2 separate regions of the Homo sapiens genome follow, and region 1 is linked to region 2. Evidence: fine-mapped expression QTL. Tissue or cell type: whole blood. Region 2 holds a variant in brackets; the other region holds the start of a gene. All regions are shown on one strand. Distances are between the middles of the regions.

Region 1 (4,172 bases), 44 kb after region 2:
CGAAAAGAAGAAAGGGGAAAAAAATTACCTGGTAGGTCCAGGGGCAGAGGGCTCCCTCCCAAAACCCAAGCGCGATTTGCATCCAAGCTAGTGGGAAAGCGCGCATCTCATCATCTGGGACTGTTCCTGATTAAAACTACAGTAAAAATAAATTGTGCCTTTATTTATTCTTTCCATACTCTATTTCCATCTATTCTAACGAGTACTTCTAGAATGAAAATAAGTAGCCGCGAAAAAAAAAAAAAGCTCATCTGAGGGACGGGGACATCGTCTCATTTCTTGGGCAGCGGCAGAGAGTAAGGGTCCAGCCCGGCCACAGTGAATTTGATTTCCGAGAGCACTCACTCCTCCTGCCACCGCCGGAAGGGTCAGGGGAAGGTTAGGAGGAAAGATGGACCTCCAGAGCCGAGCAGAAGTGCCATTGCACCAGCTTGGCGCAGAAGTGCCATTGCACCAGCTTGGCATGGGCACCGGGCACTGCACATTAGGCCTCAGGGATGGTCCTGGCGATGTCTGGTATCGTACCACGGTTTGGCTAAAGATTAAGGGACTAAAACCTGATCCTGACCTTAGATAGTGGCCTAGGAGCGCTCGTGGTTCCAGGACGCGGACCGTAAAGAGGTGCCAGGGAGCTCTGCTCGGTCCCAGGGCTCCCCAACCCCGCCGCGCCGGGGAATGGCTGCGAGGTCTCTCCCCTGAGGACCTTGAAGGGACCCCGCGCCTTCTGGGGGCAGCCGGACGATTCTGGCCCAGGTCTCTGAGGGGAATGGGGGCCGGGAGGGAGCATTCGTCTGCAGCTCTAGAGAGAACCCGAGTGAGAAATCTTCCGGCGCCCCAGGGGGTTCCCGCTCCCCTCCTAGTTGGGCCATGGCCCTGGGACTGGAGACTGCGCCGCAGAGCCCGGGCCCCCGCAGTGCGCTTGGCTAAATAGAGATCTCAGCCTCGCTGCGCGCCCGATCCGACCCTCCTTATTATAACAAATGTCCCGTTTGCAGAGCGGGACATCATATTCGCGGAGAATTCATTCTGAAATATTGATTTCCTCTCACTTCGCCGGCCCAAATCGATAGCGATGCGCCCTGGCCCCATAAATCGCCTTCTCTGCGGCCGGCCGGGCTCCATCCATCACTGCGGGCCGCGCTGCGCCTCCACCGCTGTCCGCACTCGCTGCGCGCCGGGACGGCTGCGCCCACCAGCCCTGACCCTGGAGCTCCTTCCCAGCAAAGACCCTGCCCAGCCCTGGCCGGGAAGGGGGAAAACAGGCATCGCGGCCTGGGAGCTCGAGTGTGTTTGAAGGCCCTGCTTCCGGGCGCAGGTGGGGAGGGGGTTTTGACTCCGCGAGCGGCTTAGTCCTCACCAGCCGGACGCCCCGCGCGCGGCGCCCGGCCTGCCCGGTGCTGGGCCAGGAGGAGTCGGAGAGCACCTGAGTGCGCTGCCGGCTCCCGGGCCCGGGACCACCGGCTCCATTGCCGTTGGCTTGAGAGATGCGGGGAGCTCACAGTCCAGCCAGGGGAGTCACTGGGAAGGACTGCGCGCACCCGAGGAAGAGGACTTAGAGGTCGGGGACGGGGAAACGGCAAGTCCAGCACCGGTGCAGCCCAGGGACAGAGCACGAAGAATGTCCACACTAATGCGCCATGCAAGGCTGGGAATGGAGCTCAAAGGAAACCCCCTCTAACTCCACAGAGATCCCCTCACCGATCCATGTGGTCCCTCGAAACCGGGCAAGGGCGGCTCAGCTGGCCGGGTGGAACCCCAGTGCCCGAGAACAGCGAGGCGGCTCCAGCGGAGGGCCAGGCCCCAGGCGCCCCAGCTGGGTCCCCACGCGGGTGGGTCCCGCGAATCCCGTGCTGACGCTCTCGAGATCCAACCACCCGAGCGCACGCACGGACGCTCAGCGGCGCGGGGGCTCGGGGATCCTGACCACACCGCGTTCTTACCAGATCTGATGGAGTTGTGAGGCATCGCCGGGGAGTCGCTCGCAGCCCGCCGAGGGCTCGGGGCTTCCTCCCGTAGGTCCGGGCCGCGCCTGCCGCTGCCCTGCACAAACCCAGGAGAAGGGCATGAGATGCGATGAGATTCGATGCCTGCATCCTCAGGCCCCCTCCCCAGGCCTCATCCTTTACACCTGCATCGTCTGCCAGGAGTAGGAGGATTTTTAGGCGAAGTAGGGCCAACCTCAGCCTAGCCTAGCTAACAGGCTTCCCGGGAGGATCAAGGATTGGGAGTGCGCTGAAGAAGCTCCAGACTCCAACCTCCGTGCCCACTCCCTCCGCTGTCCCAGTCTTATCCCGTTTAACTTGGGAGGGAAAAGGCTGCCAGGCATCCTGGGACCCTCTCCTTTCTTCCATCCCCCGTCCTCACTGCTAGCCAGCTTCCAGCTAACCCCTGGGTGACATACCTGGCCGGCCGGCTGCAGGCCCTCACTGCTTGGGTCCGCCCGCGAGGGTGCCCTGGGCCCGGTGTCTCTCCTCCTTCTGAAGTTTGTTCCCATCCACCCGGCATCACCGACCGGTTTTATCCCGCTGAGGCCCTGGGAGATGGGTCTGGCGAGGCTCGTAGGCCGCGGATTGGCTGGCTGGGTGCAGGGGGGTGCGGGAAGGGGAGGATTTTGCAAGGGGGACATGGCTGAGTGGACTCAGGAGTTAGAAACATTCGCTGGGAGCTTCTGTTTCCAGCGGAGGGAAGAGGGAGGCAGCTGAGCCCTAACTCAGCAGGCCTGGAAATATTGGAGGAGTGGGGAACAGAGGCCTAGGAGCCTGAGGATGAGGTTCTCTGGGTCCTCCTGGGTCACTGACCACCAGAAGTGAGAGGGATGGTCTCTGTAGGATGCCCTCCTTGCCCCCTGTCTCCCCTGGTTTGCTCACCAGGAAGCAGCCTTTTCTTTTGTAAAAGGAAGGAGGGAACTTCTGTTTTATGCCTGATTCTTTAGGTAGAGCCTGCTTTCGGGGCTGTAGGCAAGATGCTATTACCTTCTCACCACAGCTATGACCTCTTCCAGGGAAGAATCCTGAGCAGCACCTGAAGCCATTCCCTCTGTTCTACACAGATAGCGTTCACACCCTTGCATTGTCAGGCTAACAAAATTGTCACATAACCCATTCCACAGCAACTCCTCGCCTCTCTCCTCTGGAACACACACGCAGCCACCTGCCCTCTTTCTTGCTCCTTGAGGATTTTGAACTTGGAAGAAGAGTTCAGGGGAAGGGCATTGAGGGCCTAGACTTCATCTCTGTGTGGAAAGGCCTTAGAAAGGAACAGGACTGAGCTGACCTCTGGCCTGGTCTGTAGGAATCAATAGCCTCAGCAATATGGGGGCCTGGGTGTGGTTAAGAAGGGGTCCACTGGTGGGAATGATGGCAGGGTTGGTGAGCCCTGGGACCGAGCAGAGCTGCCTGGCACCTCTTTACCTTAGTGATGGCAAAAGCTGCCCCCTCCTTCCTCATAGTTCTCTCAGTCGGGGAACCGGGGTACACGTAAGATTGTGAGTGGGTATGAGTGAGCAAATGTCCTGGAACACTGGCAGGCCTGGGGGTCAAGGCCTGGATGCTCCTCCAATCTTTGGCCAGACCTCTGGACTCAGGATTACAGTCTAGAGGACAGCCATGCCCTTTTCAGTGATGGCTCTGCAGGCCTGGTGGGGTTGTTCTGGGACAGGAGGCTAAGAAGCCAGTGGGAGGGGGGCAAGGAAGGTGCAGGGGAAACTGGGATATTCAGGGGGATTGGATGTGTGTGTGTGTGTGTGTGTGTGTGTGTGTATGCACATATGTACACGTGTGTGAAAACACATGAACTATTTTTCTGAATTAAAAAAGTTTTCTCTTTCATGTCAATCCACAACCTCCTTCCACCCAGTCTTTCTCATTTCTCAATTTAGGAGAAATGAATCATCTTGTGAAAAAAGAGAGAAGAAGATGTGTATCCCTACATGTTTCCTCCACATTTGCAAAGAGGGGCTGTAAACAAAAATAGTTGGTGCTTCATCATTTTAAATCTTTCTCTAAAATTGTAATTTTAAATATCTCTGTGGTTTTCAAAGCTCCAGATCCCTAACTTCTCTGGCAGTCCCTCCCAGAGAGAGACAATCCAAGGGTGTTGGGATGGAAATGGATCTTGGCATAGGTCCTCCGGACCCCATGGGCCAGTTTGCTGCCCTGGATTGTGTCCTGCTG
Region 2 (4,172 bases):
GACCAGCCAGCAACCTTCAAAGTGCTCACACCTGCACTTCAGCATCATCTGGGCCTGGATTGGGGGCCACCAGCCTGAAAGATATGCCGGTGCTGCATATTTGGCTGCCTGCTTCCTACATGACTACCTGGTGTCTGCTGCCAGCTGTTTTGTCCCATGGGTTGGGTGACCTCTCAGTCCTGCAGTTGGCCTGGAGAGTGGGCATGTCCACTAAATTAACAGCTGACAGTAGTTGGAGGCGTCACCTCTGATTGACTGCATGTTGACAGGGGATGCTAACAGGATGACAGGGAGGGGACAAAGTGTAGGGGCTTTGGGAGTAGGGAGTTTGCCCTGGGCTGTTCCAGTTGCACTTTACACTACAGCCTATGTCTGCACTCTGATACATCTATCCACTTCCAGCTGCCCTACATCCTTCCCTCTCCTTCAGCTGGTCTTGCCAAGCTTCTCCGCGGCTTCCACAGCACCTGCTCCCCATCATCATGGGCACCACCACACCCTCACCCCTTGCCTGCCCCATGACCGCCGCCAGCTCTAGCCTGCCATTCTCAGAAGACATGCAGGCTTGCGTAACTCCCTGTAACTGACATGAACCTCTTCTCCTCACCCCCTCCCCTCCCCTCCCCTCCCCTCCCTTCCCTTCCCCTCCCTTCCTCTCCACTATCCTCTCATTCCCCTCCCTACCCCGCATCCCATTTTCTCTGGCTGACATAATTTTACTCAGCTCACAGGTTTTGCTCTTTTCATCACTTTGGTCAAAACAAATGACCCATCTCTGCTGCCTTCACCCTCTTGAATTCTTGAACTCCAAGTCAACTCCTCGCTTTAGACCCTTAAACACCATCTCTCTGCCCACACACTGGATGTCCCTCTCTTCTAAGGAAACTTCTCACATTAGGTGCTGGGATGTACGGAGGAAAAAAAAAAAAAAACCCGGGTGCCAGCCAGAAAGAAAATGTAGAGCCAGTTATAAAAAAGGGTCCATGGGCTGGGTGCAGTGGCTCACACCTGTAACCCCAGCACTTTGGGAGGCCAAGGTGGGCGGACCAAGGTCAGGAGATTGAGACCATTCTGGCTAACATGGTGAAACCCCATCTCTACTGAAAATACAAAAATTAGCCGGGTGTAGTGGCGCCCATTTGTAGTTCTAGCTACTCGGGAGGCTGAGGCAGGAGAATCACTTGAACCCAGGAGGTGGAGGTTGCAGTGAGCTGAGATCGCGCCACTGCACTCCAACCTGGGCAACAGAGTGAGATTCCATCTCAAAAAACAAAAAAACAAAAAAAAAAGGGTCCAGGGACTTTTATCACATGACCCTGTGGTTACTCTGGGCTTGTAGAGGTCTTAATCCTCTGGTGCAGTGGTTTCGAAGTCCAAGGGCTTTCTAGGGGCAGGGACCCCTTCTAAAAGAGCAGTTCTTCAGGGGTCTGGTGAGCATACATGTCTTCTGTAAAAGGCTTCATTTCAAGAGAGCATTGAGAGGCCCAAATTTGAAACCACTGGTCCAGATGGACTGTCTGACTCTGGGCTGCCTCTGTGACAGGTCTCACACACCCCACCCACGCACTGGTCTCTGCTCCAGCATTTCAAGGTCGTCGGGGTAGGAGGGTGTGGGAGGTGAAGAGGCATTTACTTCTGTCACTAAATACCCACACTCCTTGGAGACAGTGCCGCTATTAAAGAGATTCCTCCAATGCTGAACTGAGAGCTAGCTGGCTTCCTTCCCTGGTCCTGGGCCCCCACTGGGCCCACATCTAAAATAGTCCTATCCCTGTGGAAGCCCTTGAGGTATCTGAAGACCATATGGGTCTCTGCTTCCCACTTTCACTGCATCTCAGGCCCTCTCCAACCCAAGCCAAGCGCTTGACTCTCAGCCATTCCTCAGGCCCTGGCTGGATGAGCGAAGGTCCTTCTGCCAGGAGGAGCCAGCTCCCCTTGAGGTCTGACTCATGCAGTGCAGGCCCAGGCCTCAACCAGCT[A/G]CAGATGGTGCTCCTGCCCAGAGACCTTGGCAGGGACCTTCTCCTCCCTGGGCCAGGTTCCTCATCAGCATAAGAGGTTTGATCTAGAGGCTCCCTCAGGTGCTTCCAGATTTACTTATTTTTATTTATTTGTTTTTTTCTTTTTTGAGATGGAGTCTTGCTCTGTCACCCAGGCTGGAGTGCCATGGCGCCACCTCAGCTCACTGCAACCTATGCCTCCTGGGTTCAAGCGATTCTCCTGCCTCGGCCTCCCCAGTAGCTGGGATTACAGGTGTCTGCCACCACACCCCCTAATTTTTTGAATTTTAGTAGAGATGGGGTTTCATCATCTTGGCCAGGCTGGTCTTGAACTCTTGACCTTGTGATCCACCTGCCTCGGCCTCCCAAACTGCTGGAATTACAGGGGTGAGCCACCTCGCCCGGTCGGTGCTTCCAGCTTTAAATATTTTGAGGCAGTTGAGGTTCCTGATGGGAGGTCCCCCACTCCTCTCAAGTTGTTGAATCACTGAATTTATCATGTTTAACAGATGTCTGACTGTCCTCCCGGTGATGCTGTTAAGCTAGGAATGAAGATAGCTGCATCATGGAAACACAACTGGGACTGACCCTTGGCCTTTTTAGAAATTTGATCCAGAAATGGGCTCCAAAAGCCAATTCCTTTTTCCCTCCAAAATGTTCATTTTTCCTTCTATCTATTTATGCATTTACCAAGGCCAAGTTGCTACGTTACAGCACCCGGCTCCCGGCCTTAGGGTTCCTGCTTTTCCATGGGGTCTTGGGGTGGTGCATCCCCGGCACCCCTACAGCATCCGCCCCTTCCGAGCATGTCTTCCCCGTCACAGAGAACTTCATGTTGGCGCCTCCAAAAGTTGCCGGAGGAATTAGGGAACAGGGTGGGGGTGGATGAGACTGAGGCCAGAGAGGGGGCTGGCGGTCTGCCCTGAGGACCCCCGTCCCACCCGCCGCCATAGCTGCATGGCCCCGGGACCTCCCTGTCGTACCTGAGAGGAGGGCCTGGCCCGTGAACTGCCCGTACACGGAGGCAGCATGGGGAAAGGCATTGAAGGGCGGGACCCCGGAGCCGACTTGCTGCAGATCCAAAAAGGCGGAGCTAGATAAAGAGGAAGGGGTGGAGCTAGAACTGGACACCTCGGGGGTTTCCTGCTTTATGGCGAAGGGTGAGTGAGGATCTGCCGGAGGGAGGGAGACAACAAGGAGAGAGGGGTGTGAGATGGCGGGGAGGGAACACGCACAAGCCAAGCCGTGGGATGTGGAGGGTGCGGGCGGGGCGCGGGGCAGGCTCAGCTGCCCTCAGAGTCTGGGCTGGGGAGAGCCGGGGCCCACGAGGCGTGGCAAGGCGGGGAGAGAGAAGCTAGACCTCCCTGCTGCGCTTCTGCAGCGAAAATGGAGAGACCCGGAAGGCGTGTGTGCGCCCGCCTCTCCCACAGGAGGGAGCGCGGAGACCCGGGAGCGGCCTAGGACCGGAGGCGCGACCCCTCGGCCCACCTTGAGGCCCGGCCTAGGACCGGAGGCGCGACCCCTGGGCCCACCTTGAGGCCCGGCCTAGGACTGGAGGCGCGACCCCTCGGCCCACCTTGCGGGAGCCGCCTAGGACCGGAGGCGCGACCCCTCGGCCCAGCTTGAGGCCCGGCCTAGGACCGGAGGCGCGACCCCTCGGCCCACCTTGCGGGAGCCGCCTAGGACCGGAGGCGCGACCCCTCGGCCCACCTTGAGGCCCGGCCTAGGACCGGAGGCGCGACCCCTGGGCCCACCTTGAGGCCCGGCCTAGGACTGGAGGCGCGACCCCTCGGCCCACCTTACGGGAGCCGCCTAGGGCCGGAGGCGCGACCCCTCGGCCCAGCTTGAGGCCCGGCCTAGGACCGGAGGCGCGACCCCTCGGCCCACCTTGAGGCCCGGCCTAGGACTGGAGGCGCGACCCCTCGGCCCACCTTGAGGCCCGGCCTAGGACCGGAGGCGCGACCCCTGGGCCCACCTTGAGGCCCGGCCTAGGACTGGAGGCGCGACCCCTCGGCCCACCTTGAGGCCCGGCCTAGGACCGGAGGCGCGACCCCTGGGCCCACCTGGCGGCCCGGCCGGCACAGCCCGCCTCTCCTCTCCAGGCCAGGGCCCCACACCTTCCGCCTGACAGCCAGCCAAGCTCTTCAGTCCCCCGCCCTCCACCTGCCAGGGAGG

What was found. PIP is the estimated chance that this variant, and not a neighbour inherited with it, causes the effect.
Region 1: it holds the start of PAX8, and the variant in region 2 is fine-mapped to the expression of PAX8 in whole blood (INTERVAL, PIP 0.98).

What each region holds. Positions count from the first base shown.
Region 1 is chr2:113,276,430-113,280,601 of GRCh38, forward strand. It overlaps PAX8 (paired box 8), which reads right to left and starts at 2,492. Exons shown (of 12, transcript NM_003466.4): 1 at 2,402-2,492; 2 at 1,941-2,040. The coding sequence starts at 1,965. RefSeq lists a promoter at 1,965-3,094.
Region 2 is chr2:113,232,414-113,236,585 of GRCh38, forward strand. PAX8 (paired box 8) reads right to left here. Exons shown (of 12, transcript NM_003466.4): 9 at 2,981-3,169. It overlaps PAX8-AS1 (PAX8 antisense RNA 1), which reads left to right and starts at 3,856. Exons shown (of 6, transcript NR_015377.2): 1 at 3,856-4,172. RefSeq lists an enhancer at 2,753-2,942 and a silencer at 3,193-3,272. The variant A/G (reference allele first, on the strand shown) is at 1,980.